2 separate regions of the Homo sapiens genome follow, and region 2 is linked to region 1. A link means that fine-mapping ties the variant in region 1 to the expression of a gene that starts in the linked region. Tissue or cell type: whole blood. Region 1 holds a variant in brackets; the other region holds the start of a gene. All regions are shown on one strand. Distances are from middle to middle.

The links. PIP is the estimated chance that this variant, and not a neighbour inherited with it, causes the effect.
Region 2: it holds the start of MDM2, and the variant in region 1 is fine-mapped to the expression of MDM2 in whole blood (TOPMed, PIP 0.96).

Annotation. Positions count from the first base shown.
Region 1 is chr12:68,784,038-68,792,236 of GRCh38, forward strand. No RefSeq gene overlaps it. Among named protein-coding and RNA genes, the nearest start is that of MDM2, 20 kb to the right of the region's middle. RefSeq lists enhancers at 3,208-3,762, 3,763-4,316. The variant G/A (reference allele first, on the strand shown) is at 3,705.
Region 2 is chr12:68,803,968-68,812,113 of GRCh38, forward strand. MDM2 (MDM2 proto-oncogene) reads left to right here and starts at 4,210. Exons shown (of 11, transcript NM_002392.6): 1 at 4,210-4,524; 2 at 5,241-5,325. The coding sequence starts at 4,511. It also overlaps the pseudogene SZRD1P1. RefSeq lists a silencer at 3,908-4,297 and enhancers at 4,499-5,698, 4,798-5,187.

The sequences.
Region 1 (8,199 bases):
AAGACCACCCACCACGTCACATTCTTGAGGTGTTTGTGCTGATCCTTCTCTTTAATCTTAACATTGTGGAATCTCCACGGCTTTGCTTCCTCTCAGCCCGCTCTCACCCACTCCACCCATTCCAATACACAGGCACTGGGTGAAGGACGGAACTTAGCTCAAAAGGTCTCTATCGCTTGAGGTCGGGCTTGCTCCTTCGTGGTAGGCATTCCATCATCTGGATTGCAACAGAACTGCAAACCACATTGCTTTCTAAGAGACTAAACCCAAGAGACTAACCCCAGTCCAGGGCGTAGCCACCTGCCTCTCAGCCCTAATTACAGACTGTACCTTCTGCTCATGAAGGAGCCCTGCTCTAACTTCTGGGAATTATATGGTTGCATTAAGGTATGGACACATTCCTTTTCTCTCTCGACACCAAAAAGGATACTATATCTGCTTGATCAATAGTCTACCTCTGACTTTAAAGTACTTACTAGAGTATAAGTTCCACAAGGGCAGGATCTTGTCTGTTTCTGTTTACCTTCGTATCCCCAGTACTGGCACAATGCCTGGTTCTTAGTATGTGTTCAATAATTATCTGTTGAATAAATGATTAAGTGAGTGATTTAACTGGACACGAAAACAGGCATATCAGCTGGGTGCAGTGGCTCACACCTGTAATCCCAGCACTTTGGGAAGCTAAAATGGGAAGGTCACCTGAGCCCAAAAGTTCAAGACCAGCCTGGGCAACATGGCAAAATCCTGTCTCTACAAAAAATACAAAAATCAACCAGGCATGGTGGCATGCACTTGTGGTCCCAGCTACTCAGGAGGTTGAGGTGGGAGGATCACCTGAGCCTGGGGAGGTCAAGGATGCAGTGAGCCATGATTGTGCCACTGCACTCCAGCCTGGCTGACAGAGTAAGAACCCATCTCAAATAAAATAAAATGGGTATATCAGTATAGTGAAAAAATTAATCATCCATTTGGTCTTTTATTCACTATTCCACAGATTTTATTGAGCACTGATTATGTCAGGCACTCTTTTCTTTTTTTTAGATAGAGTCTCGCTCTGTTGCTCAGGCTGGAGTGCAGTGGTGTGATCTCAACTCACTGCTACCTCTGCCTCCTGGGTTCAAGTGATTCTCCTGTCTCAGCCTCCCAAGTAGCTGGGATTACAGGTACCTACAACCATGCCCAGCTAATTTTTGTATTTTTAATAGAGATGGGGTTTCACCACGTTGGCCAGGCTGGTCTCAAACTCCTGACCTCAGAAGATCTGCCCGCCTTAGCCTCCCAAAGTGCTGGGATTACAGGCATGAGCCACTGCACCCGGCTGCCAGGCACTCTGAAATGCTAGGAATACAAAATTATTAGGCAAAGCAATCTAACCAAGGGGACTTTCCCAACTAATTAGACTCAAAGAAATAGTCTTTTATTCAGTCAGGAGCATGAGTCCTGCACACAGCACCCCGTATTATACTCTGAAAATTAGGAAGAAGTGGAAGATAGTGCCTTTCACCACAGAGCTTTCAATTTAGAGGCCAAAGAGCATGGCCAAATATTAAAAAGTTATGCAAGGACACAGATATGAACAAGGAAATATTAACGTACCACCAGCTGTACCAAAATGCTGCAGTTCTCTGAGTAATCAAGTGATCATTACTCATGGTATCTCAGTCAGATTTCAGACTAGCAAGATCAACCTTGCTAGTCTCTCTTTTAGGAACTCAGTTCTTTTCCTTCTAATGCCTCATCCCAGTTTGCAATTATATATTTATTTGCTTCTTGTATTTCTCCTTTACTATACTGCAAGCTCAAAAAAGGCACAGGTTATATATGTTTTAATCAGGCTATATTTTAAATGCCTTGCACTGTGCCAGTAAATATTCGTTAAATATATGAATTGCTGGGTATGATGGTGTGAGCCTGTGGTGCCAGCTACTTGAAAGGCTGAGGTGGGAGGATCGCTTCAGCCCAGGAGTTCAAGGTTGTAGTGCACTACAGTCATGCCTCGAATAGACTTTGCACTCCAACCTAGCCAACATAGCGAGACCCTATCTCTAAAAGTAAATGAATTAATTAATGAATTAAGGGTCACAGCCAAATTCATGCTTAAAATATTTTGATACTTGGCCAAGAGGATAGTGGCAGTAAATCAATAAACTGGTTGATGGTGAACTTCTTTTTTGTTGTTGTTGCGGGGTTTTTTTGTTTTTTATTTTTTGAGACAGGGTCTCTGACCCCCAGGTTGGACTACAGTGGCACAATCACAGCTCATTGCAGTCTCAAGCCACCTTCCTGGGCTCCGGCAATCCTCCTGCCTCAGCCTCCCAAAGCACTGGGATTACAAGCATGAGCCATCCCACCTAGCAATGATGTGTGTACTTGTGACATGATGCATAGGATTTACCTTTCCACACTCAGCTAAATAACTGTTTCAATTTTGCTAGGAAAGTTCTGGTCTAGTTTGGTCTGGACTCTAGTTTACTTTTCTTTCTTTTTAACCTTACTTACTTTTTATTTTATTTTTATGTGTTTATTTTTTGAGACATAGTCTCGCTCTGTCACGCAGGCTGGAGTGCAGTGGCACGATCTCGGCTCACTGCAACCTCCACCTCCCAGGTTCAAGCGATTCTCCTGCCTCAGCCTCCCGAGTAGCTGGGACTACAGGCGTCTGCCACCACGCCCGGCTAATTTTTGTATTTTTAGTAGAGACGGAGGTTTCACCATATTGGCCAGGCTGGTCTCGAACTCCTGACCTCGTGATCTGCCCACCTTGGGCTCCCAAAGTGCTGGGATTACAGGCTTGAGCCACCGCGCCTGGCCTAACCTTACTTACTTTTTAACTGTGGCAAAGACTCTAGTCTTCTTTTAAGAGTAACTACAATTTACTTTTTAAAATTATTAAATAATTTTCTATCATACTTTTATGTGCTGTGTTTTATGGATTATGTGTTTTATGTGCTGAATTTATGTTTTTAAATCACTTTTTAAGTTATCTGCATCACTTTTAAGCAAGGTGGTGAGAGATAAAAACCATGTCGCTTTACTTTTAAAGTGAATGACCGCCTCTAAGCTTGAAAACATCACAGTTAGACTGTGTCATTTTCTGGTCTTTAGGTGGAGCCACTGCTATTGCAGGTTTCCTAAACCTAAACCTATTTATAGAGAAATTCCTCTTCAGTCATTTTATAACCAAAGCCTCTTGTAAGTATTTAACATTACATTTTAGCTCAGTGAATTTCACTATATAGGAAAGATCCTGAGAGAACTAACAATATAAAATATGTAGCCAATTCATACATATTTTAACATTCAGAAATACTACTTATTAGAATTTGAATTTATTTCTCAGACTTTTCTGAGAGGTTAGAAGGGCCCTGTTGTGTTTAACCCAAAGACCAGTTCAAAAACTAGGGAAGGAGCTGTTTAAGAGGAAGGAATGACTAACGTCTGAAGGTCAGAGGACTAAAATCCTGGTGATTGAACAAGTTGCAACACATGGGTTTTCCCTCTAAAAAAACAAAACAAGCCGGGCAAAAAAAAAAAAAAGAAAAAAACAAACAAAAAACATTCTGTGCTGGCCCCAGTAATTACTTGTACCCTTGCTCTTTCATTTCCTCTTCTAATGATAAAGGAAGCTGCAGTTGCTCAACTTGTGAACTGAAAACATGGGACAGCAATGACACAGGAAAATGGGCAAGTCCAGGCAAAAGCCC[G/A]TGCGGTGGCCAGAGTCCGGGCCTGCCTGCTTTCCCATCATTTTCCTTTCCCATGTTTGTTCTTTTCTTCTTTTCGCCTTGATTTCTTATCGTGTTCCTTTTTTTTTTTTTTTTTGAGATGGAGTTTCGCTCTGTCACCCAGACTGTAATTCAGTGGCACGATCTTGGCTCACTGTAAACTCCTCCTCCTGGGTTCAAGCAATTCTTCTGCCCCAGCCTCCCAAGTAGCTGGGATTACAGGCGGGTGTCACCATGCCTGGCTAATTTTTGTATTTTTAGTAGGCACGGGGTTTCACCATGTTGGCCAGGCTGGTCTCGAATTCCTGACCTCAAGTGATCCACCTGCCTCAGCTTCCCAAAGTGCTTGGATTACAGGTGTGAGCCATCACAACCGGCCTGTTACATTTTTTTAAAAAATATTTTCCACCACCCCTTTTTCCTTGTATCACACCTCTCCTTTAAGCCCACAAGTTAAAGCATTGATGAACACTTCTACTTCAACTTGGGAATATTAATACAAAAAAAAGACCCAGCACTCACTGAAGTACAACACAAAGCAAATCCCTTTTACTACAAATTCCTTTTTCTACAGCTCTTTCCAATGGATTTAAATTGTTCTTAAATGAAATTTTTAAACATATAAAATTGGGAAACATTTTAATTTTCATAGAGACCTATAAATCCATGTTTTCCCAAATTTAGTCCTGTCGAGGGTATGGGAAAACAAGTACCATCTTACATTCATCATGAGACCATAAATTGCATAGCCACAAAAATGCTCATGCCCTGTAACCCAGAAAATCCACTTTCAGGAGTTTATCCTAAGAAAGTAAAGATGTGCAAAAAGATTTTCTTTGTAGATGGGGTCTCACTGTCACCATGGCTGGAGTGCAGTGGCAAGATCATAACTCATTGCAGCCTCAAACTTCCATGGTCAAGCCATCTTCCTACCTCAGCCTCCTGAGTAGCTGAGACTACAGGCTTATGACACCGAGTGTGCCTAAGTTTTTTATTTTTTTTTTAATTTTTTTGTAAAGACAAGGTCTCTCTTTGTTGCCCAGGCTAGTCTTGAGCTCTTGGCCTCAAGTGATTCTCTGGCCTCAGCCACCTGAAGTACTGGGATTACAGGTGTAAGCCACCACGTCCAGCCCTGCATAAAGATTTTTGTGCAGAGAAGTTTATCACAGCATTATTATTATTATCATTTTTAGAGACAGGGTCTTGCTCTGTTGCCCAGGCTGGAGTGCAGTGGTGCGAGTATAGCTCACTGCAACCTCCAACTCCTGGGCTAAAGCAATCCTCTTGCCTCAGTCTCCTAAGTTGGTGTGCACCATCAGGCTGAGAAACATTATTGATAATAGCAAAAAAAATAGGAAAGCAACTAAATGTCCAACAGTTCTTGGTCCACCCGTCCATGTGACTCACCAGTCTTCTGGAAAGGCCTGGGATTTTTAACCTTATGCTTGCCACCTAAACCTCTGCTGGATGAGTGAGGCCCTAGAGATCAATAGACCTCTCTAGTTAATGATTACTAGTCTTCTCCCATTTCTAAGTACACACAGCTTGGTTTCCCCACCTTTATCAACATGCTGCTTAGAACATCTAACTATTTTCAATTGCAACTCCTTCCACCTTCCACTGTAAGAACTATAGTTTTTGGGCTGGGCGCGGTGGCTAACGCCTGTAATCCCAGCACTCTGGGAGGCTGAAGCGGGTGGATCACCTGAAGTCAAGAGTTTGAGACCAGCCTGATCAATATGGTGCAACCCCGTCTCTACTAAAAATACAAAAAAAACCAAATTAGTCAGGTGCGGTGGCATGTGCCTGGGTGACTGTCTCAAAAAAAAAAAAAAAAACAAGAACTATAGTTCTTGTTTTGTTTTGTTTTTTGAAACAAGGTCTTGCTCTGTCACCGAGGCTGGAGTGCAGTGGCACCATCACGGCTCACTGCAACCTCGAACTCCCTGGCTCAAGTGATCCTCCTACTTCAGCCTCCTGAGTAGCTGGGACAGTTTCTTTTAAAAATTATGATTATTGGCTGGGTGCGGTGGCTCACACCTATAATCCTAGCACTTTGGGAGGCCGACGCAAGTGGATCATGAGGTCAGGAGATCGAGACCATCCTGGCTAACACAGTGAAAACCTGTCTCTACTAAAAATACAAAAAATTAGCCGGGCATGGTGGTGGGCACCTGTGGCCCCAGCTACTCGGGAGGCTGAGGCAGGAGAATGGCGGGAACCCGGGAGGTGGAGCTTGCAGTCAGCCAAGATTGCACCACTGCACTCCAGCCTGGGTGACAGAGCAATACTCTGTCTCAAAAAAATAATAATTAAAAAAATTTAAAAATTATGATTATCGTATTCCCCAGGGCAGAGCATCCAAGTTAATAGGCACTTAGCAAGTTTTTATTGAATGAGTGAATAAATGAATGAGATGTTTACAATCTGCCTTGAATATAATTAGCTCTACTTCAAATTGTCGGCCTATAATCCCTCAGCAGAAACAAATCATTTACATAGTAATCCCATGGGGAAGAAAATGACTGTGATTCATAACATTTAAAATTTTAAACAAAACAACAGCAATGATGTGGTCATCTATTCATTCAACAAATGTACTAAGTACCTTCTATGGACCAGATGCGAAAGCCCTGGAGATGGAATCATAGAATTAGAAATTAAGAAAACTGTATGGATTATGCCTATAATCCCAGCACTTTGGGAGCCCGAGGCGGGCGGATCACCTGAGGTCGGGAGTTTGAGACCAGCCTGACCAAAGTGGAAAAACCCCATCTCTACTAAAAATACAAAACTAGCCAGGGGGGAGGGGGGTGGCGCGGTGGTGCATGACTATAATCCTAGCTACTCAGGAGGCTGAGGCACAAGAATTGCTTGAACCCAGGAGGCAGAGGTTGCAGTGAGCCGAGATCACGCCATTGCACTCCAGCCTGGGCAACAAGAGCAAAACTCTGTCTCAAAAAGAAAAAAAGAAAAAAAAAACTGTATGGATTAAGATGTTTAAACAATTAAAGAGGCCAGGCATGCATGCCTGTAATCTCAGCACTTTACGGGGCTGAGACAGGACTGCTTGAGCCCAAAAGTTTGAGACCAGGCTGGGCAACACAGGGAGATCCTGTCTCTACCAAAAATTTAAATATTAGCCAGGTGTGGTGGCGCTTACCTACAGTCCTAGCTACTTGGGAGACTGATGAAGGAGGACTGCTTGAGCCGAGCCCAGTAGGTTGAGGCTGCAGTGAGCTGTGATCGTGTCACTTCACTCCAGCCTGGGCAACACAGCAAGACTCTATCTCAAAAAATTTTCTTAAAAAGGCTGGATGCAGTGGCTCACATCTGTAATCCCAGCATTTTGGGAAGCCAAGGTGGGCGGATCACCTGAGGAGTTCAAGACCACCCTGGCCAACATGGTGAAATCCACTAAAAACACAAAAATTAGCCAGGTGTGGTGGTAGGTGCCTGTAATACCAGCTACTAGGGAGGCTGAGGCAGGAGACTCACTTGAACCCAGCGGGTGGAGGTTGCAGTGAAACGAGATTGCGCCACTGCACTCCCGCCTGGGTGACAGACCGAGACGCCGTCTTAATAATAATAATAATAATGTTAAAAAAATTAAAGAGACTGATTTATACACTGGAATATCAGTTCCTTAATTTGGAAGGTGGATCTACCTAAACAATGCATTTCCCCTCCATGAGCATCTCCTTTGCATCAAGGTACCTGTGAAATTAGATAGGTTAGCAGGAAGTTTATTTATTTATTTATTTTTGTTTTTTTTTTGAGACAGAGTTTCACTCTTGTTGCCCAGGCTGGAGTGCAATGGTGCGATCTCGGCTCACTACAACCTCCATCTTCCAGTTTCAAGCGATTCTCCTGACTCAGCCTCCCAAGTAGCTGAGATTACAGGCACCCACGTAGCTGGGATTACAGGCACCTGCCACCACGCCCAGCTAATTTTTGTATTTTTAGTAGAGATGGGGTTTCACCATGTTGGCCAGGCTGGTCTCAAACTCCTGACCTCGTGATCTGCCCACCTCAGCCTCCCAAAGTGCTGGGATTACAGGCGTGAGCCACTGCGCCCGGCCTGGTTAGCAGGAAGTTTTTAAGGACCATATAATCAGAGGTAAGGGAGTAGACTAATTTAGGAAGCTATTTCTTTCCAGCTATGGAAAGGCCTAGAAATTTTTATGTATTTTTCCAGTGAATTGATTATTCCTATGCTAGACAATCATGATCAAATTCTTACTATTTAATTGCCCTACTCCCTGTTTTTTTGAGACAGGATCTGGCTCTCTCACCCAGGCTGGAATACAGTGGTGAGGTCATAGCTCATTGCAGCCTCGGCCTCCCAGGCTCAAGTGATCCTCCCATCTCAGCCTCCTGAGTAGCTGGGACCACACACATGCACCACCATGCCTGGCTAATTTTTTTATTTTTGTAGGGATGGCATCTCCCTATGTTGCCCAGGCTGATCTTGAAC
Region 2 (8,146 bases), 20 kb after region 1:
TTAGTTATGACTAATAAATACAAGTACGAAGTGGCCCTTGGGTCAAGATAAGTCTGTTGTAGACTTTTTTTTTTCCCCTTGAGACATGGTCTCACTCTGTCACATAGGCTGGAGTGCAGTGGCAGGATCACACCACAACCTATCCGGGCTCAAGCCATCCTCCCAGCTCTGGCTCCCAAGTAGCTAGGACTATAGGTGAGTGCCACCACGCCTGGCTAATTTTTTTTTGCAATTTATAGAGACAGGGTTTCGCCATGTTGCTCAGGCTGGTCTCAAACTCTTGGCCTCAATAGATCCTCCAGCCTTGGCCTCCCACAGTGCTGGGATTACAGGTGTGAGCCTTGTTTGCAGAGTTTAGGTCCCAGAGAATATAAAGACACTCAAAGTATCTCAACCTCTTGGAACACCTCTTGGGCATCAAGAACAACGCTACTAGAAATAAGCAGTTTGCCTCTAGAGAAACTTCAAGTAAGCACAACAAAGGGCAAAGTGACACAAGATAACTGTGGAATGCAAGCAAACAGCAGCAGCTGGTCTGTATTTTTTTAAATGGCAAAGTCACAAACAACAGCAACTGCTTTTAGAGTGAGCAGGTAGTTTGCTTTCTTTTTTTTCAAATGGAACTCACTTTTTAAGTGATGACATGCACTTGGGGGTGGGTAGGTGTGAGTTCATTTGTGTTTTGAAATCCCAAATTAATGAGCATGATAAACCGCTATTGCTGGCCCTGTCTGACTCTCTACTCTGAGTAATTGGTGGGTTCCCCCCAACCTTCTCCTAACCCTCACCCTTTTTCCCTTTCCATTGACTTGGGACAGTCCTTGTCAAAGTGCCAATCACAGTGGGAAGGAGGAGAAGGGGGGAGGTCACAGTGCATGGGATTCAAGGTCACAGTGGGCGGAGCAACGGGGATCACCAGGCAAGTAAGTCAAGTTCCCGCTGCTCAAGTCCAGCTGTCTGCCACGGTAGTGCAACCCTTGGCGGACGACCCAGGACGCGTTGACGCGGCAGTCGCGCCATCTCTTCTTGCCTGCATTTATCTGCGCTGTTTGAAGCCGTGTGACCCATCAGGACCCAGAGGCTGTCTGATCACATTATTGGGCTGTCTGCTGTCTTCGGGTTAGGAGATCCTGGTTGGCCTGAAGGGAAGAAGATCAGAGGAAGACCTATCGAGGATGGGTTTCTCCTGCTTCTCCTCGGGTTGGCGCTGCCCAGGATCCGCTTCCTGGCCTCGGTGTACTCGGCTTCCCACTGTGCCAGGGACTTGACTGGAAGGGCGGGCCTGCTAGCGGACTTGGGGCTGCTGACCACACCGTTGCTGGTGGGCCTCTTGAGGATGCGGACCTGTGGAGGGGGTCCCGGGGGAAAATTATCATCCTGAATCACAATGGGCACTTTGGGAGATTTGAATTTCCTGCTTTCTGTGTGATCTTCAGTTTTTTTTCCAGACGTCTATTTCCCCGCTGTCTGCCGTCTCCTCCCAGCTCTCAGCAACCTCCTCATATTCCATCTTACTCGCCACTTTCCAGATCGCTTGCTTTCTTATTTCCACATTTTCTCTGACTTTTGCAGTATTCAATATTATTACCTGATTCTGATTTTTCAGACATCACTATATGGTCCTTGGCTTTTTGGTCGTTCCTCTCATTCCTTTGCTGTTTCAAGCTCTGTTCCCAGCCTAAGCTTTTTACCACCGAATTCTGTTCTGTGACCCATAACTTAAAACTAACCCAACTTTTCATTCCCTCCAGACTTTTTTTGGTAAGCAGTATCATCATGCTTTAGGTGGACACTGAGTCATACTGCTGTGGTAGTGCTGGTACACGTAGTTTTGAATACCAGGTTCTTGAGTGAATCCTTTTTACTTCTCTCTCTCTCCCCCACCCCCGCTTCTCCCTTCTGCCTTCATTTCTGACCCTTCTTTTCTGGTTCCATTAGAAAAGGACTAATCTTATCAGTTCTGCCTTTTTTTTTCTGCTCTAATAATTTTGTCAAGATAATTTTTTCAAAGCACAAGGCCAATGAGAAGGGGGAAAGTCGGTCCAGAAGGCAGCCGGCCCGACTATTCTGAGTTTGAATCTACTCTTGGTGGTCCTGTTAAAATACAGTTTGAAGCAAATCACTTGTTTTTATGCTTCTAATGTCTACTCTGTCGAAAGCCCAAATTTCCTTGCTTGGCATTTAAGGAGACTCCAAGTTCTTAAAACTTCTTCTTGACTTTCATGCAAGTCAAACGGATTTATTTATTGTATCTCAAACAGTCCTCTTATATTTTCCTTTCTGTATTTTTTGATAATTTTCTTGTGCCTGGAATATTCTCTGCTTTTATTTAAGTCTCACCATCTTTCAAGACACAAAATATGTGTGATCTCTGAGGCCTTTGTGAACTGCCTCCAGCATTTACTAAGCAATTAATTCTGTCTCTGAACTTTTATAGCACAAACCCATTCGTTCACTTGATATTTAACAAATATCAACCTCTATCACTTATCTCTTTTTTTTTTTTTTTCTTCTGAGATGGAGTCTTGCTCTGTCACCCAGGCTGGACTGCAGTGGCGCGATCTCCGCTCACTGCAACCTCTGCCTCCCGAGATCAAGCGATTCTTCTGCCTCAGCCTCCCAAGTGGCTAGGATTACAGGCGCCCGCCACGGGGCCCGGCTAATTTTTGTATTTTTAGTAGAGACAAGGTTTCACCATCTTGGCCAGGCTGGTCTCGAACTCCTAACCTCGTGATCCACCCACCTCAGCCTCCCAAAGTGCTGGGATTACAAGCGTGAGCCACCGTGCGCAGCCTATCACTTATCTTTTCATGCTTACATTTTCTCACTGCTTGAGATTTTCTTTCATCCAGGGTCAAGCACTGAGTCTATTAGAAACCCCACTGTATATGATCTGATGAAGATGAGATTATCTTTTTAAAAGCCACATATTAAATCTCTTAAGTTAATAATATTGGCAATCAACTTAAATCAACTGAGTGACCACTATGTTTAAGGAAGTTTCCTTTCTGGTAGGCTGGGAAGCGGGAGAAGGGAAGGATATAACTTTATAAAAAAAAAAAAGCTGCAGAAGGGAAGGATATAACTTTATAAAAAAAGGTCCTTGTTCACAAGGAGCTAATCACTTACTGGCCAGAGAAGAAACGTGTTCCTTCTTTGCAATGGCTGTGTTTTTGGGTTTAGCTAACTCAATTCTTTATGTCCTCAATTTATGAGACCGCATCAAAAACGTTTTTGCCACATCTCTGTGGGAAAGTAGGTGAGTCAGAATGAGTGCATAATATATAAGTATATATTTTAATGATAATGAATGTGTAGATTAACAAACCCAAACTTTGTTTTTGTTTTTTTGAGAGTCTTGCCCTGTCGCCCAGGCTGGAGTGCAATGGCATGATCTTGGCTCACTGCAGCCTCTGCCTCCCGGGTTCACAGGATTGTCCTGCCTCAGCCTCCGGAGTAGAGTAGCTGGGATTACAGGTGACCGCCACCACGCCCGACTAATTTTTGTAGTTTTTAGTAGAGACGGCGTTTCCCATGTTGGCCAGGTTGGTCTTGAACTCCTGACCTCAAGTGATCCACCCGCCTCGGCCTACCCAAAGTGATGGGATTACAAGCGTGAGCCACCGCGCCCAGCCAAACCCAAACATTCTAAAAGCGCAGAGTAACCGCTCCCCTCCCCGCCAACGGTAACCAGCATCTTCGTTCTCCAACCAGAACAGCTGTATGCACCGGTGTATAAGCCTGCCTTAAGTGCTATTTTTAATCTTTTTTAAAAACAGGCCTTAAAATAACTCATTTGGGTACAACTCCAGCGGCTGGTGGAGTGGGCTTAATATATTAAACAGCTGTTAATTTTGGTTTCTTTTTGGTAACAGCGACACGGAGATCCGCATTTGTCGCAGTTTCCACCGCGGGCGGGAAGTGTAAACACAAGAAATACAAACATAGCGCAACGGCTAAAGGAGTGTCACAGCGCCAAACCTTGCTGGCTCCGCGCCAGGCCGAGCCCCACCCTCTCAGCTCGCGGCCAACACCCCCACCCCGCCTCACAGCCCGCCGCGCCCGCGGGGCGACACCCCCCACTCCATCATCCCGGAGGTGGTGCGGCCGAGCCCCGGACCCAATTGGCGGAAGCGGGGCCGGTTGTGTGCGCGCGCACAAATGCCCGGATGCGCCGCGACGACCCGCGCGCTCCCCTCGGGCGGTAGGGGGCGCGCACCGAGGCACCGCGGCGAGCTTGGCTGCTTCTGGGGCCTGTGTGGCCCTGTGTGTCGGAAAGATGGAGCAAGAAGCCGAGCCCGAGGGGCGGCCGCGACCCCTCTGACCGAGATCCTGCTGCTTTCGCAGCCAGGAGCACCGTCCCTCCCCGGATTAGTGCGTACGAGCGCCCAGTGCCCTGGCCCGGAGAGTGGAATGATCCCCGAGGCCCAGGGCGTCGTGCTTCCGCGCGCCCCGTGAAGGAAACTGGGGAGTCTTGAGGGACCCCCGACTCCAAGCGCGAAAACCCCGGATGGTGAGGAGCAGGTACTGGCCCGGCAGCGAGCGGTCACTTTTGGGTCTGGGCTCTGACGGTGTCCCCTCTATCGCTGGTTCCCAGCCTCTGCCCGTTCGCAGCCTTTGTGCGGTTCGTGGCTGGGGGCTCGGGGCGCGGGGCGCGGGGCATGGGGCACGTGGCTTTGCGGAGGTTTTGTTGGACTGGGGCTAGGCAGTCGCCGCCAGGGAGGAGGGCGGGATTTCGGACGGCTCTCGCGGCGGTGGGGGTGGGGGTGGTTCGGAGGTCTCCGCGGGAGTTCAGGGTAAAGGTCACGGGGGCCGGGGGCTGCGGGGCCGCTTCGGCGCGGGAGGTCCGGATGATCGCAGGTGCCTGTCGGGTCACTAGTGTGAACGCTGCGCGTAGTCTGGGCGGGATTGGGCCGGTTCAGTGGGCAGGTTGACTCAGCTTTTCCTCTTGAGCTGGTCAAGTTCAGACACGTTCCGAAACTGCAGTAAAAGGAGTTAAGTCCTGACTTGTCTCCAGCTGGGGCTATTTAAACCATGCATTTTCCCAGCTGTGTTCAGTGGCGATTGGAGGGTAGACCTGTGGGCACGGACGCACGCCACTTTTTCTCTGCTGATCCAGGTAAGCACCGACTTGCTTGTAGCTTTAGTTTTAACTGTTGTTTATGTTCTTTATATATGATGTATTTTCCACAGATGTTTCATGATTTCCAGTTTTCATCGTGTCTTTTTTTTCCTTGTAGGCAAATGTGCAATACCAACATGTCTGTACCTACTGATGGTGCTGTAACCACCTCACAGATTCCAGCTTCGGAACAAGAGACCCTGGTTAGTATTTTTGTCTCGTGTAACTTTTAAGAATAATTTATTTTATGAAGTGATAAACTAAATTTCGTATACCTCAATTGTAGCATGGCTCTGTAAATAAAATTGTATGTGCATAGCTTAAAGTGTGCTACCTCTGGCGTAACTGCGTGGAGTTAAAAACTGTTAAGAACTGGTCAGTATTTTTTTAGCCATTTGCCACATTTGCTTTAAAAATTAGTTCCATTACATTGTTAAGCGTGGTTGAAGTTACGTTTGTTACGTGACTGATTTTTTTTTCCTTTTTGACCTCCCAGTATTTAATTTTTAAAAATGGTTTCTAAAAGTCAAAAAAGTTATTCGTGCTTGTTTTAAAGATTTTTGTCATTAGAGAAATTTTAAAGTAAAACCTGAAAATTCCAGGCTTTTTGCTCCATGTTTCCTTTTAGATTTTTTGTGTGCGTACCCACATATATTTACATTTGAATTTAAATCTATGTTATTGTCCTGTTTGTTGTACTAACAAGATGAAACTGTAGTTGTTCTGTGACTTGCATCCTTGTCAATAAATAAAGTCTACAGAATTCTTTTTAATGGCTGCATAGTATTCCACAGCATGAGTATACCATTTTAAAAATTATTTATGCCTTTACTGATAGGTTTTTAAAAATTGCCTCCTGTTTTTGAGTATTACAGATAGTGCCGCTTTGTACATGCATCCCGTGTGACTATTTCTGTAAGAAAGATTTTATAGAATTATAGGCTGGCCTCGGTGGCTCACCCCTGTAATCCCATCACTTTGGGAGGCCAAGGCGGACCGATCACCTGAGATGAGGAGTTCAAGACTAGCCTGGCCAACATGGTGAAAACCTGTCTCTACTAAAAATACAAAAATTAGTCGGGCATGGTGGCGCGCGCCTATAATCCCCTGCTGAGGAGGCTGGGGCAGGAGAATCGCTTGAACCCAGGAGGCAGAGGTTGCGGTGAGCCAAGATTGCGCCATTTCACTCCAGCCTGGGCGATAAGAGCGAAACTCCGTCTAAAAAAAAAAAAAAGAAAAGAAAAAGATTTTAGAGAATTAGAACTCCTGAGTTCTCAATTTTACTATTTGATTGCTACTGGTAACTTGCTCACCAAAAGGCTCTAACAGTTTCACTCCTGCCAATACTGAATATCACCAATCTTTAATTATTATTATTATTATTTTTTTTGAGGCGGAGTCTTGCTCTGTCTCCCAGGCTGGAGTGCAGTGGCACAATCTCGGCTCACTGCAATCTCCGTTCCCCGGGTTCACGCCATTCCCCTGCCTCAGCCTCCCGAGTAGCTGGGACTACAGGCGCCCACCACCACGCCCGGCTAATTTTTTGTATTTTTAGTAGAGACGGGGTTTCACCATGTTAGCCAGGATGATCTTGATCCCCTGACCTGGTGATCCGCCCGCCTCGGCCTCCCAAAGTGCTGGGATTACAGGCGTGAGTCACTGCGCCTGGCCTCTTTTATTATTATTACTATTTTTTTGATAAAAGGTACTGTACCATTGTTTAAATTCATTTTTCTCTAGTTTCTTGGTGAGGCTGGGCACCTTTCCTTTTTGTTTTTGTTTTTGTTTTTTTTGAGACAGAGTTTCACTCCTGTTGCCCAGGCTGGAGTGCAATGGCGAGATCTTGTCTCATTGCAACCTCTGCCTCACGGGTTCAAGCGATTCTCTTGCCTCAGCCTCTGGAGTAGCTGGGATTACAGGCATGCGCCACCACGCTCAGCTAATTTTGTATTTTTAGTAGAGATGGGGTTTTTCCATGTTGGTCAGGCTGGTCTTGAACTCCCAACTTCAGGTGATCTGCCTGCCTCGGCCTCCCAAAGTGCTGGGATTACAGGCGTGAATCACTGCACCAGGCCTCCATTTTGTTAAGTCATTTATTTCTTCTGGGACTTGCCTAGTCTTATCTGTCCATTTTCCTTTTAGTTTTTTAAAATTTTTCTTAGTAATTGGAGTAGCTCTATGTGTTTCAAGTATATTTAACTTTTGTTGTTTACTAATGTAGCATTTAATTTTATGTTGTCTTTTCCCCATTGAGAACAATTCTGTGAAGTAAAATTTGTTGGCTTTTGAATTTCATATCATGCTTTGGAAGAACTCTCCTGTCCCAAGATCTTGCAAATATATTCCTATATTTTCTTCTAGATTTAAATTTTTTAAATATTTAGATCTTCACCTGTAATTTACCTTCTTGTTCTTCAATGTAAGATTACAAATGCTATTATCTTTTATAGCTGTTTTCTCATTAATACATGTCTTTTAAGTCACTAATATACTGATGGCTTTCCATTACAGATTTTTTTTTTTTTTTTTTTTTGAGACTGAGTCTTGGTCTGTTGCCCAGGCTGGAGTGCAGTGGCATGATCTCGGCTCACTGCAACCTCTGCTTCCTGGGTTCAAGCAATTCTGCCGCAGCCTCCCGAGTAGCTGGGATTACAGGCACCCACCTCCACACCCGGATAATTTTTGTACTTTTAGTAGAGATAGGGTTTCACCATGTTGTCCAGGCTGGTCTTGAACTTCTGACCTCCTGATCTGCCTGTCTTGGCCTCCCAAAGTGCTGGGATTAAAGGCATGAGCCACTGCGCCTGGCCCACACCTGGGTAATTTTTGTATATTTAATAGAGACGGAGTTTCACTGTGTTGGCCAGGCTGGTCTCACACTCCTGACCTCAGGTGATCTGCCTGCCTCGGCCTCCCAAAGTGCTGGGATTACAGACCTGAGCCACTGCACCTGGCTTCCATTACAGATTTTTACTTTGAATTATTTTATCTAATTTGAAGCTAATATAGCATATAATAAAAATT